Linked DNA regions of Homo sapiens. The protein of the gene in region 2 purifies or fractionates together with the protein of the main gene of each other region. This does not show direct contact. Each region holds a gene or a part of one and is shown on either strand. Other genes may lie near its edges.

Evidence for each region. The genes of interacting proteins can lie anywhere in the genome.
Region 1: the proteins of ALS2 (region 2) and CFAP410 purify together in Homo sapiens (affinity purification with mass spectrometry; 2 studies listed by BioGRID and IntAct, with this or other methods). This does not show direct contact.

What each region holds. Positions count from the first base shown.
Region 1 is NC_000021.9:44,329,391-44,336,416, forward strand, and holds part of CFAP410 (nuclear encoded mitochondrial protein C21orf2), read right to left. Parts: intron 6,415-7,026; coding exon 6,368-6,414; exon of another isoform or gene 3,873-6,367; coding exon 3,643-3,872; intron 2,625-3,642; coding exon 2,453-2,624; intron 1,530-2,452; coding exon 1,433-1,529; coding exon of another isoform or gene 1,073-1,432; intron 937-1,072; coding exon 808-936; 3' UTR 1-807. UniProt on the Homo sapiens protein: Plays a role in cilia formation and/or maintenance. Plays a role in the regulation of cell morphology and cytoskeletal organization. Involved in DNA damage repair.
Region 2 is NC_000002.12:201,700,934-201,707,959, forward strand, and holds part of ALS2 (alsin), read right to left. Parts: coding exon 6,936-7,026; intron 6,090-6,935; coding exon 5,913-6,089; intron 4,529-5,912; coding exon 4,483-4,528; intron 4,268-4,482; coding exon 4,206-4,267; intron 3,671-4,205; coding exon 3,521-3,670; intron 3,286-3,520; coding exon 3,189-3,285; intron 957-3,188; coding exon 918-956; 3' UTR 1-917. UniProt on the Homo sapiens protein: May act as a GTPase regulator. Controls survival and growth of spinal motoneurons.

The DNA of each region.
Region 1 (7,026 bases), on a different chromosome or scaffold from region 2:
TGGGGGGCACTAGGAAGGTCCCCAGGGCCACGGGTCACTGCCCAGATTGTGGCATCCTCATAAGACTTGCGACTCTTCCCAGAGGAAAGAAAACCCCTCTCAGATGCTCCAAGGACTCCCCTAGTCTAGCTGCTTCCTGTGCCAGGCCCGGACCCCAGGGCGAACAGGCCTGTTCATCCACAACCTCACAGCTGAGGGCCCTCCTGCAGTTCTTCACAGGAGAGAGAAAGGAAGGCGCACCTGCCCAGCCCGGCCAAGAAAACAAAACTCTCTCCCATGGGTGCGGGAGGCTGCTGCCTGCCTGCTGAGCAGCTCAGGGCAGATGTCGCTATGGGTGCCAGCATTCTCGAAGTCTCCCTTGCCCAACAGAAATCTATCCAAGGACCAAGGGCTGGAATCGGCAAAGCCATCCGTGAAGACCTCCTCATTCTGTGGAGAAACGGCCCTTGCTTTCAGGAAGACTGTCACAACCATGCCTTGGGAAACGTCACCTCCAGATCAACCTTGGGAAAATCTTTTATTAGGGAGGACAGCCTGCAAAATCCTCCCTTTAAGAGCCCAGGCCAGCCTAGAACCTCCAGACCACAGAAGGGGAGTCCTGGGGACAGGACTGGTGTAGACAGGCATCTCCACCGCCCCGGTTAGCCAGTACCTAACACCCACTCCTGCCCTCGGCCGATGTGGCAAACCGGGGAGGCTTTTGTGTGGGGCCGGGGCTGCGGCCATGGCAGCCACCCTCCAGCTCCCGGGGGCTGGGGAAGACGCTGGGGTCCCCGTGGAGGCTGGAGCGGCGTTCAGGTCCTGCGGTCACTCGGCGTGCTCCTGCACCTCTTCCCCACGCAGGGCCTGCAGCCGGCTGCCCACAGTCTGCTGCACGGCCTCCAGCCCCTCTGCATCCAGCTCCCGCAGCAGCAGCAGGATGGCAGTCAGGACGTTCTGAGGGCAGAGGGGTGCGGACTAAGCCCACCCGGCACGGCGAGGCTGCTTCCCTCCACAAGGGCTGGGGCCTGGCCAGCGGTGCCCCACCACGGAGCGACTGGTCCCGGGGGTGTGGGCCGTCCAAGTGACTGACCGGCACACTCGGAGAATCTGAGCAGAGGAGCCCCGCCTGTGGACGCGTGTGTGGCACCTCTTCCACGTGACTCCTGTTGCCCTCAGCCCAGCAGGGCCCGGGCCCACATTCCACAGACCAGGACAGCAGGAGAGGCTGAGGGGCCAGGACGGCTCCGTGCGGGGCACGTGTTACACGTGTGTGCGCATTCACAGACCCGCACACGCAGCTCCCCCTGGGGCACAGCTCTTCAAGGCCCTGTGAGGCTCCATGCTCCCTCCCCACGGGGCCCTGTGAGGCTCCATGCTCCCTCCCCACGGTTTCTGTGCAGTGGGTGCAGTGGGCAGAGGCAGCCGCGGCCCCTAGCGGCCCGCCACTCACCCTGCCCCTGTGGCTGCTCGAGGCATCCCTGGCTGAGAGGGAAGGAAACTGGCCCCGGGAAGGCGGCTTCAGGCCACGTTCATCCTGGGCGCCGCTGCTGAGAGGGAGACAAAGGCGTGTGAGGGTCAGGGGGCTCGTGGCACCGGGGGGGCCTCTGCAAACCCTGTCTGCGGGTCGCATCCAAGCAAAGGAGGGGCTCATACAAATCCCACCTGGCACACGGGGGCAAGAGAAGGGAGGCAACTCCTGGGAGGTCAGGGGCTACAGATGGCAGCTCCTGGAGAGCCCGGCACTTACTTCACCTGTGGGGCGCCCTCCCGGCACCCTGGGGCTCCCCAGCTGTAACACCTTCCACCCAGGGCTTCAGGGGCAGGGTGGGGGGCACCCGAACACACAAATGCCGGGGGAGAGCTCCTGACCATGGGGTCAGGCCCTGTGCCGGATGGCAGATGCCTAACAGAGATCACATCCCGATGCCCCCACCACAGGCACCAGCAGCGGGTGTGATCTGCCAAGCAGGAGAGAAGTGCCCAGCTTCTGTCAAATGCGTTCGTGACCCGCTGCCAACTGCCCTGGGAGGCGCCGGCGTCTCACTGCAGAGTCAGCCCTGTGGCCCCTCCACGGCCCCCAGGCCCAAGGCCATACGGGCACTGATGGCCGTGCCCACAAACCATTCCAGTCACTGTGGCCCTAGGCCACCCCCCCCACCAGGGGCTCCCTGCACCTCACGAGCTCTGGTGCTGTGAGCCTTCTCTGTGCCAGGGCACGGGGCCTGGCTCACCCCCTCTCCTGCTCCCTGGCACATCCGCTGTTGGGCAAAACATGGACCTGCCACTGAAATCACTACCTGGGCACTGAGTCACTCCCAGAGAATATGGATGAGAACAGACACTCCCCCCGGATAATCCCTGTCCCTCACTTCCCAGAGACGCAGCTCACGGGAAGCCCCATTCACTCCCCGTGGGAGGACCCTGGGGGACAGGGATGGGCTGCGGAGTCCCCGCTGCCCTCCAGCCTCACGTTGCCTCCTCCTCGCTGTCCAGCGGGTCCCGGCCAGTCTCAGCAGCGGAGCTGAGGGAGCTCAGTGTGCAGCATAGCTTGGGGCCGCCGTGGCCTGTGCCCTCTCTCTCTGGGGCCGCAGTGATCTCCTCTCCCTCACTCAGTGCACGGGACAGCTCCTCCTCCGTCACAGCTTTGGGATGAAAGACAGAAGACAGCATGAGTGGCCTCACCCACGTGCAGGCCACATGCACTGCAGCTCCCGTCCTCACTGTGGCTTCAGGCACAGTCTGCTTGTGAAATGCATGCACGTGTATCCACCTCCAGGGACAACTCCCAGAGTAGCAGCCGGTTCCTCACTGTCCCATCCCCAGCCTGGCACAGGCTGACACACAACAGATGGTGGAGGGCTGCTCAGGAATCTCAACACCAGCCTTGGCCAGAAGCAAATACTCCTCAAAACCTCAACTAAGACACAATAGAAAAAGGAACAGACCATATTGAATTTATTCCATTTCTCTCATATATCAATTTCCCTGAAGTTTATATTATTAATATCAATAAAATTGTCTGGGAGAAAATAGTGGTGTCTGTATACCTGACAAGGATGAGACACTAGTGTGCTGAGAATGCCAAGGATGAACAAACAGCATGAAACCACAGCCTGGAAAACTGTGTCGGTGCTGGCGCTGGCTAGAGGAGGCACGAGTGCCTCCAATAGGTGGAGCGCAGCAGCAGGCACTGCGGTGCTGGGACGGCCCCTCCCCACGGCAGGGGCGCGATGGCACCGCCACCCTAGGTTCACAGTGGCCCGTGGAGCCTGCCCAGTCCCTGTGGACCAGTGCGATGCTGCTTGCCAGATACTGACGCCCCCGCTCGCCATGGCGCATGGCGATGGTCAGAGCAGGGCTGCTACTCACAGAAGCAAAAGAAGGAACCCTTTTGCTTTGCTACCAGGTCCTGCGGTCGTTGGGGGATACCCAAACTGTCAGTCCCAGGAGGGACCCTACGCTGCGCTGCTGCATTCGGGTGGCGGGATCAAGAGGAGACACAGAAGCCAGGGGAACAGCCTCTGGAGGAGACTTCACAGGACACATCTATGTCCCGCCAGACCAGGTATTTGCAGAAAAGGAGAAGAGAAAAGAGGGCTGGGGACATCCCCTTCCAGGGATTGTTTTGGGAGGGCCGGTGACTCCGCTGCGGCCACCTACCCTGGTTGTCCAGCTTCTGTAGGCGCGGCAGGGTGCGCAGCACGGTCATGCGGTAGCGGTGGGGGCTGGTGCCGCAGCACGGGTTCTCGGCCAGCCACAGCACCCGCAGACGCGGCAGCCCCTTCAGGTAGAAGAGCTCAGCCAGGCTGGGGATGCGGTTCCTCCGCAGGTACAGCTCACTCAGGCGCTGGCACCGGCTCACAGGCTCCAGGGTGGAGATGCTGTTGACACTGCACGGAGACCAGCACAGTCAGCGAGGGACGTGGCCAGGGCCCCCAGGGCCACCTCTCAATCCCCACCCCCAGTAAAAGGCACTCATGGGACCTGTGTCCCTGCCCTCTCCTGAGAAGCCTAAATCGGATGTCACAAGTCACGTGCAGCAGGACCTGGGCCGAGGAGAGAGCTGTAGGAAGGCCAGGCCCTGAACTCAAAGGCGGACTGGGGTGGACCCCACCAGCAACAGCCCCTTGGCCCGACGCTCCACATCAGCTCCTCAGGGCGCTAGAGTGCGGGAGGTGGGGGATGTGGCCCTCCTTCACAGGTGAGGAAAATTAAGGCCTCTCAGGGGACATATCATGTTGCCCCAAAGCAGGGAGCGGCCAGAAAAACTCATGGCAAAAACTAGGAGCCAGCTCCACGTGACATGGGAGTGAGCACGGACCTTCCAAACCCCCACTTGAGGGCGGCAACACTGGGGATGGGCCTCATTTCCATTCTACAGAACGTGGACGCGTCAGAGAAGAGAAACAGCAGGCCTGGAGCGGGGACCTGCAGGCTTTACCCTGCAGCGTGGGGTCCGTCCCCTCCACAAGCGAACACGCGGAGCCGCTCCCGCAGGCCCTCAAAGGCGCGGAGCCAGGGCCCCCTGCCTGGAGGGCTGCACTCGCGTCCGGCAGGCGCCTCAGAAGGGCGGTCACCAGGCCCCCATGGGCAGCCTGCCGTCCTGAGCCCCCCTCCCCATGCCATCCCTTCACTCGGGGTTTCCCAGGTCTCATGCAGCTCCTAGCTATGAGGCCGCCCCATTTTACCAAGAGCAAAACTCCGGCTGTGGGACTCTTTCCAGGATGGGGTCTGCCTCAGGCACAGGCAGCAGCGTGATGTACCGACCGCGTCCGCGGCCTCGAGGCTTCCTGCTCCGCTCCAGTGCAGTCAGGCGTGCAGGCACCACGCACCTGAGCTCGGTCAACACCCCTGGGGTCCTGTCCCTCCCGAGATGTGACAGAAATGGCCCCACACACGAGCGGCCTGATGCTCGGAGGCCCTGTGGCCCCTGGGTGACTCAGTGAGCGGCAGGGATAGGGCTGGATCCACAGCCCCGCCCCAAGCTTCCTGCCACCGTGGGAACCACAAGCTCCACGTTTCCCTGTCAGGTAAGCCTTTCGGAGGCAGGCCTGAAATCCCAGCCTCACTGTGTCGCCTGACTAGTGAAACGAGCCCCGCGGCAGGCACGCGCACCCCCCCTCAACCTCTGGGCGGGCACGCGCACCCCCCCCCCCCCCCCGCTCAACCTCTGGGCGGGCACGCGCACCCCTGCTCAACCTCTGGACTCGGGCTCCATCTCCTCCTCATCTCCCTGTGGGGTGGGCACTTGTAATACCTCCATGTTACAGAAAGGAAACTGAGGCACAGAGAGGGCCATGCCTCGCCCAAGGTTAGCCAGCCAATAGATGGGAGGGCTGAGATTTGACCCATGAGCATGCCTCCAAGCCCATTTCATTCATTCAGCAAGGCTCGGGCAGGACAGGCTGGTGCCCGCGCTGGGGATGCCTGAACACCAGATGGACTGGCCTCAGCCCATGGCGGGCAGCAGGCTGGGCACGGGCATCAACATGGCAATGCCAACCTCAGAGGGCATTACGGAGGATGGGCAGGGGCTGGCCTACCCCGTGGCTGCCTGTGAGATCAAGAAGGTAGGTCACAGTCAGGGACCAGGGGCCTGCAATACCCACTCTCAGAGGGCAAGCCCTAGAGACTTCTGAGCTGCCAGAGGGGTGGGCCTTCCCCACAGGGTTTAAACCCTTGTGAGCTTTTAAATGCGGAAACCCACAGAAGGCGCCCATCCAGCGTCTGGTGGGCAGTGGTGAGCCATGAGCGTCTGCTCCCTCCGTGGGTCCCACAGTAGGCAGGAGGGAATTCAGGGATAAAGGGAGCTCTTCTCTTCCCCAGAGCCCCCAAATACACCCCAACTGCCTGAAAGTCCAGTAACATTTGTTCATTCAAGCTTCCCTTAGTCTGCTGGGAGGGCAGTGACCCCAGAAGACGGGCACAGGTCATGGGGTGCAGAGAAACTGGTAGGCAGTGGTGGCACTGGGGGGCAGAAGAGGCCAGGACTCTGGGGGTCCCAGGGCAGATGTGGCCACCGTGGGGGCGGCCAGGGCGGGCCACCGTGAATCCTTAGGAGGGCTCCACCACCGACTGGCCCAGTGAACACAGCAATGGCTTATCGGAGCACACAGGCCAAGGGTGGGCAGGCGTACAGCAGGGCAGGCAGGGGACAGGAGCCATCAGGAGGCCCAGGTGAGGCTCTGAGGAAGGAGGGCTGAACATGGGGGCCACAGGGTAGGCCCAGCTCTCGCTGTCCCGGCCCCTCCCCTTCTGGAAGCCGCCCTCAGTCTGTGTTGGAGGTTTCCAGGTTATGTCACAGTGCTGGGTCCCACTGGAGGGACGTGAGGCTCTGCCCCGGCTTCCAGGCCCCAGGCTGAGCATGACAGCAGGAGCGAGGTACCTGAGCGTGATCACCTCCAGGCTGGGCATCTCCTGGCAAATGGAGATCTAGGAGGAAAAGAACATGACTAGCAAGCATGGCACAGCAGGGCATCGCGGCCGCACTGCCATCAGCCACAGAGAACTGTCGAAGCCACGGCCAACCCACTTCCGGGGCCTGAGGGGCACGGCCTTACTCAGCCAGTGTGCCCAGGGTGAATGCCCAGGGCCTGAGGGGAGCGGCCCTGCTCAGCCAGTGTGCCCAGGGTGAATGCCCAGGGCCTGAGGGGAGCGGCCCTGCTCAGCCAGTGTGCCCAGGGTGAATGCCCAGGGCCTGAGGGGAGCGGCCCTGCTCAGCCAGTGTGCCCAGGGTGAATGCCCAGGGCCTGAGGGGAGCGGCCCTGCTCAGCCAGTGTGCCCAGGATGAATGCCCACGAGTATGCCAGGTTCTCCTCTGACACCACCTTGCAGCCCAGACGCCCCGCAGACTGAAGGAGAAATGTGAGGCTCCTCCTTGCACGCACTCTGTCTTTATTAAATTTTACGACAGCATCGTTGCTGTCAGATGCTGCCAGCAGTGGAGACAGAGCATTCATTACTTTAGATGCCCTCAAAGGACATCAGGTAAGGGGACCCCAATGTCCCCTACGCAGGGATAGAAAGCAAGGAAAGGATGGAAAT
Region 2 (7,026 bases):
AAGTATAGGGAAGAACAACACCAGGCTGGGGATCGATGCAGTTTTTTGCTTATTTCCCAGTTGTTAGTCCTGCTCGAAAACACAGCCTGCATGCAAAACTTCCTCAGGCTGCCATTCACAGGCCTTGGAATACAGCGTTTGCACATGGACAAATGAGGTTCCTAGCAGCTCAGAGTCGGTGTCTGAATTCCAGTGTATTCACTCTCTGTAGCATGATAAAGAAACCAAAAACAAAATTCCTATGTTCTTTTAAGTTAAGAGGCAGAAGACTCCTATTTGGATGCATTCCACATTTTGGGGACAGAATGTGGTAGTTTTGCACAGAACCTCTCCCATCAAGAAACAGCTTAGAAAAAGTTAAAACTGCAGTTTAAAAGTTCCTTTCTCCCCTCCCTTGGCAAAGAGACATGATGCACACATGACTGGAAGGGACTCAGGAAGGCAGAGTGTGGCCACTATAGTTTCAAGTACGATCTGGTTCTTGCAAACGGATCGGGGTAACTGCAGGTGGATTCAGGCAAACCAGAAATTCAAAAATATCCATCAACTTCTTTAATATAAGAAGCTCTACTGGAAGCTTTTCTTACAACTTCATGTAGCTGACATACCCTTTACTGTAGGAAGGGATATCCTCTTCTTTTTTCAAATAGTAGATAAATGGTATTTTTGGAACTTATCATAGGCCAAGAACTGGTCTAATCTGATTTTTTACCTCCCTTTCAATCCTCCCTTTAAACTATACAGTCCTTTTTTCTGGGCTCAGGGCTCTTATTATTGGTAAGGCTCATTCTAACAACCTAAATAACACAAAGTCCTTTCCAATTTCAACACTGTTCTTTTTTGCCACTACAGGAAGACTCCAGATGGTGTTATAACACTCTGTAGTAGATAATCCAGTTTTCAAGCTGTTATGCAGCCTAGTTAAGCTTCTCACGCTGAATCTGGTAGTAACATGCCTGGAAGAAAAGTTCAAAATAATTTCAAATTCACTTTTAAAGAAATTACATAAAGAGAGCAATGCATATGGGACTAAAGAAACAAAATCCCTTATGAACAAATTCAGCTGATGGCCCAACAGATTTAATTGATTTCACTTTTCCCTGTTCCCTTCTAGTTCCCCTATCTAGTGGCTGTCTTTTGCCTACTTGTAATTAGTATAGACAAAATTTTTTCATTTCCCGTCTTATTCTAAAACAAAGTTTTTTTACAAGCTAGCTAATATTCTTCACATGCAGAGACACCACAATTTGCCATTACTGATTGGACATTTAGAGTATACCAATCATTAAAAGGTACAACTCTAATTAGAATCACCTAGTATGATTAATAAATATACAGATTAAGCATCATTGCAGACCTGGGGAGTCATAACTTCCAAGAATGCATTTTTAAGAAGCACCCTGAATTATGAGTTTCCAGGTATGGGAATTACTCATACCCCAATGAATAACACATCCAGATAACATGTAACATTTTCCATTCTTTAGTTTCTTAGGATAAATCCCCAGGAGTAGAACCATTGAGTCAAACTCCACATTTTTTGATGTTGTTGATATCTATGTTAGTAACAATTGCTTTCCAAAAGGGTAATGGCTACTTACCCCATTATCAGCAATGTGGGAATAATAATGACTTCACTATAACCCCATCAGTAATTTTAAAATATTCTTGATAATTTAACAGCACAAAATGGTACCTTATTTAAATCTGCAGTACTACGATTTTCAGTGAGGTTGAGTATTTTTCTACATGTAAACTTACTAGTTCAGTTTCTTCTTTGGTGATCTGTTTAGAGATACTCTTCAAATAACATAAACACTAATAATCTAAGTCATCTGTGGCCAATATTTTCCCCAGTTTCTCCCCCTTTTCAGTTTATTTAATAGAAGTGTTAATGGTAGGCCAGGTGCAGTGGCTCACGCCTGTAATCCCAGCGTTTTGGGAGGCCAAGGCGGGTGGATCATCTGAGGTCAGGAGTTCGTGACCAGCCTGGCCAACCTGGTGAAACCCCATCTCTAATAAAAATACAAAAATTAGCCAGGTGTGGTGGCAGGCACTTGTAATCCCAACTACTTGGGAGGCTGAGGCAGCAGAATCACTTGAACCTGGGAAGTGGAGGTTGCAGTGAGTCGAGATTGCACCACTGCACTCCAGCCTGGGCGACAGAGTGAGACTCTGTCTCAAAAAAAAGAAGCATTAATGGTATTTTAGTTGAAAAGTTTAAATAGTTAACCTAGGCCAGAAACCTGACATTGAATTCTAATTATTTTTCTTATTTTAATTTACCTGTCTTTCCTTCTCTCTTCCTTTCTCTATATTTAAACCCCAAAGCATCTATATAATTTGCTATTCTACCCTCCCTCCAAAACTGCTAATAAGCTATCCAATACTTTGTTTTACCATTTGTTAAATAATTCCTCTTTTCCATTTTGGTTTGGTGTTTCCACTTTCATGTGAAGTTTTTATTATGATGTGTTTATATGGGAGCTATCCTTTCTATTTAGGTAATTGTGTATTCCTGTGACAGTCACATACTATTTTATCTTCATTATTGTAATTTTATAAATTTTACTAACTGGAAGAGTAGGTCTATTCTTTCTCATTTTTCACAAGTGTTTTTGCACTTTCTATCTGCTGTTTTTTCAATAAACTTTAGAGTGATTCTTCCAAATTCCAAGAAAAATCAAGGCAGGAAACAAATGACTTCTAACAATCTCTCCAGGCCACCCAGATCAAAGAAGCTCATTTGTAATCTATTGGTTACAGTAAATACAAGGCAAAGAAAGAAGATGGAATTCAAATTCATTATTTACATACTGCCTTCTGTGTTTTACCCTGTTCCATTGAATAGCACTCCTGTTGGAAACTTTCTTGGACACTAAGAATCCTTTCTGTTTCTTTTTTAGAATTACAATTATTTATATAAATGTAAACATTTATAACAGTTTGATCAATTTACAAGGAGGATTAGATAATGAAGAATTTGCTTTAGTATTTTGAGGAACAACTGGCTTATCCTACTTTAATATACTATATAATGTTTTAAAGTGTAGAACAAAATGTGCTCTAAAGGCATTTAAGGTTTGCATTAAACTTTTATACAAAAAAAGTGGTTAATGGCATTTATAATATGGTAAATGAAAGACAGATATGAAGATAAGAAAGTATTAAATAATAACTATACTCACCTTCAAGGTGGTGAACATTATACCCTGTTCCCCATGCTGAAGATAGGGGTCCATTAGATCCTCAATGAGGTGTACCTCAGAGCCTAAATTCCTAATCCTGCCCCAGAGAGAAAAAGATGCTGAGTTATTTTCACTTACATGTCCATTCTCCTTTTGAATCTAGTTGATGGGAAAAAGAAAGAACAGCTCAATAAAAGGGTAATGTCACAGTGGAATGGGTTAATCGATTTTTTTCTAGTGGAAGAGCGTACTCCTGCTGTCAGTTCAGAAAATGCAAGCAGCAGACTTTTAAAAATAACGACTCACTAATAACAAAGTCATAAAACAGTTACCTGGCCCGTAGCACCACATATAAGAAAACAGGAAACAAGTCATCCATGGACCACAAGAAGTCTTCGTGGAGTGACGCCAGGACACTCTGAGAGATCTCCTCAAAAGTCTGCTGGATGACCTTAAGTTTGTCTGATGGGGTAAATGTTGTGCTGTTACAGAAACAATGACAAAAAGACATCCTATAATTTTCTTAATAAAGCCATTTGATCGTGCTTTTTTGACAATATTCCCTCCTGGGATTCACATGCCTTAACCCGGACACTTAGGCATTATGAGTCGTTGGAAAGGATGACTTTGTACTCCCATGGTGCTATGAGAAAAGTAGCCTCCAACTGTCTACGATTCATATATTGTTTCCTTTTACCCACGTGAAATCTCATTCTCCTAATATATGCTCTTTTCTGAATGAGAAATTTGGTTAATTTCCAATTGGCTAAAGATGTGATTATATGGATAAATTTCTGGCTTGGCTCTCTCCTACTTTTGAAAATGCAAGGTCATTTTAGAGTAAAAGATAACCCAAGGGTCTCATTCTGATTTCTGATTTCCAGATTGAGTTTGACACCATCAGCATATAGAATGGGGATGCTTAAGGCTTAGGTAAAGATAAGATCATATTAATAATATCTTAATAGACCAAGCACTACTTTGATTTGTATGGCTTTTCAACAAATCAGAGATTACCTGATCTGCTGCAGACATTCTACTGCTGAGGCAAAACAAGCATCTTTCGTGGTTGGCAAAACCTGCAAAAAAGAGAGTGAAGGTCAAGGAGGAAAACTATTTTCTGCAACAACAGAAATAAATGATACTGATGTCAGAGTGCAGGTCTTTGGTAATAACAGATGCAAACACAAGCTTGGGTACTGTTCTATCAAAGTAAAATGAAAAAGTTTTGCTATCTCAAATCCTTCCCATTAGAGAAAAGCATATTTGCTGAGGAAAAGAAAATCTACTATACCTTTTTACTCTCTCCAAGGATTGACAAGGTTGCTGGCCAAAATTTCCTATAATGGAATCCATAAATTATTAATATAAGTTGTTACTTATGGTAAACAAAATCCCATAAAAATAGTTGACAGCTATATTGGCTTCCTTGTCCCCATTAAAAAGAACTGCTCCACAATAGGTTAAGTTTTTATAAACATTCCAGAAGTGATTTAAGAGTTTTTATCATCTCCCTAAGGGATTTGTCATTCTATATCCCAATAACCTACACGTTACAGATATTACCAAATATTTTTCCTTCACTCAGTTTTATCTCATTTCTACTACTGAATTATTCCACTGAAAACAATTAAAGCACAAAATAAAAAAAAAGCACAAAAATAAGAAAATATAAAAATTAGCTGGGTGCGTTGACACAGGCCTGTAATCCCAGCTAGCTGGGAGGCTGAGGCACGAGAATCACTTGAACCTGGGAGGTGGAGGTTGCAGCTAGCCAAGATGGTGCCACTGCACTCCAGCCAGGGCAACAAAGCAAGACTCCGTCTCAAAAAAAAAAAAAATTGAGGCTTATTCACTTTTCCTGGTAGCACAAATAGAGATTGGGGAGGTGGAATCAGCTTTATCACTGCCCTAGAAAGAAAACATAATAATTTAGTATTCCCTGGATAGCAAGCAATAATACCTTCTAATAAAAACAGCAGGGCTGGGCACAGTGGCTCACACCTGTAATCCCAGCACGTTGGGAGGCCGAGGCGAGCAGATCACTTGAGGCAAAGAGTTCGAGACCAGCCTGGCCAACATGGCAAAACTCCATCTATACTAAAAATACAAAAATTAGCTGAGCATGGTGCCGTGCGCCTGTAATCCCAGCTACTTGGGAGGGTGGGGCATGAGAATTGCTTGAACTTGGGAGGTGGAGGTTGCAGTGAGCTGAGATTGCACCATCGCACTCCTGCCTGCATGACAGAGTGAAACTCTCTTTCAAAAAAAGAAAAAAAAAAAAACACTTCAAAACCTTTAACTTAAAAATTGCAAATGGAGAGGGAGGAGAGAAAAGAAGAGAAGGAAGAATGCCAAAGATATGTATTCTGCTCTAAAGAGCTATAAAATACCAGGCAAAATAGCTCACACTTTATATATATATATATATATAACTATACATAATATATAAAATACATTACTAATATATAATAAATATATATTACTATATATATGAAAACATAATAAAAAACACATTCCAAAGAATCAGCAGGTTTCATACTCATCTCCAAATATTCTCAGAAATAAAGATTATTAACTATCACTATTTTGTTAAAGAAGACATATGCAAAAAATAATTACAAGCCATATATATAATTAGATATCAAAGTGCCAAATTTCCAATAATGCAGTTTGCATTTTAAATTAAAACCATTTGGTTGCGCTTGTAACTACTACACTTACCTCTGCACCCCAAGAAAGCCCAGGAGAGCAATATCTGGCTGCTTATTTAGTCGAAGGACACATTCCCAGTAAATGTCTTCCTCGCGATCATTATCCAAAGCATAAAGCATAAACAGCGGTGGGTAGAGCCGAGGTAGCAGCACAGGAAGCAATAATCCAGAACTCGTTACTACATAACTACAAAATAATGGAGTGGGAGAAAAGGAGCATTTTTCATATTAAAATTGAATACAGAATCCAAGGTAGAGCTTCAGTTTCAAAAAGTCAAAAGTAGAGATGGGAAGTTTTAAAGAAGTTATAATATTACTCTGCTCTTTACATATGGAGTTGATATGAGGACATTATCTATAATTTTGTCTTAGAGGAAACTGTGAATTCTTTTCATGAATTAAAAATCTCACTGAAAACCTACATTGTTTCCATTTTGAGGCTGATTTCTCTGAGGTTATTCTAGGACAGTGTGATGTTACTTCCTTTGCTAAGCAGCCTTTGTGCTCAGATCATCTGTGGTTGCTTTTTCCTGGGGTATGGCTAATAGTACTTGAGAGAACTAAGAGGGACCTCAGAGGGGGCACCTACCCAGCTACATTTTTTTTTTTTTTGAGACAGGTCTCACTTTGTCACCCAGGCTGGAGCGCAATGGTGCAGTCACAGCTCACTGCAGCCTTTAACCTCCCAGGCCCAAGTGATCCTCTCATCTCAGCCTCCCACGTAGCTGAACCCGTAGGTGTGTGCCACCATGCCCTGCTAATTTTTTTTATTTTTGTAGAGATGGGGTCTCCCTATCTTGCCCAGGCTGCTCTTGAACTCCTAAGATCAAGCAATCCTCCCACCTCAGCCTCCCAAAGTGTGGGATTACAGGTGTGAGCCACTGTGGCTGGCCCCAACCCTCCTGGCCCCAACCATATCATTTTAGAAATGAGGAAATAGATCTAGAGAACACACTTTCTCGCTGGGACTCTTTGAGTAAGATCATCTAGTCACCATTCCCTTTCTTCACTGTCCCCACCCAACTCCATTTACCCTGGCTCTGGTGATTCAGATCGGGAATCTGACTTCCCAGTGCAAAAAGACTTCCTTTCGGTTGGCAGAGGAGCAGAGAGAGGAATTGTGC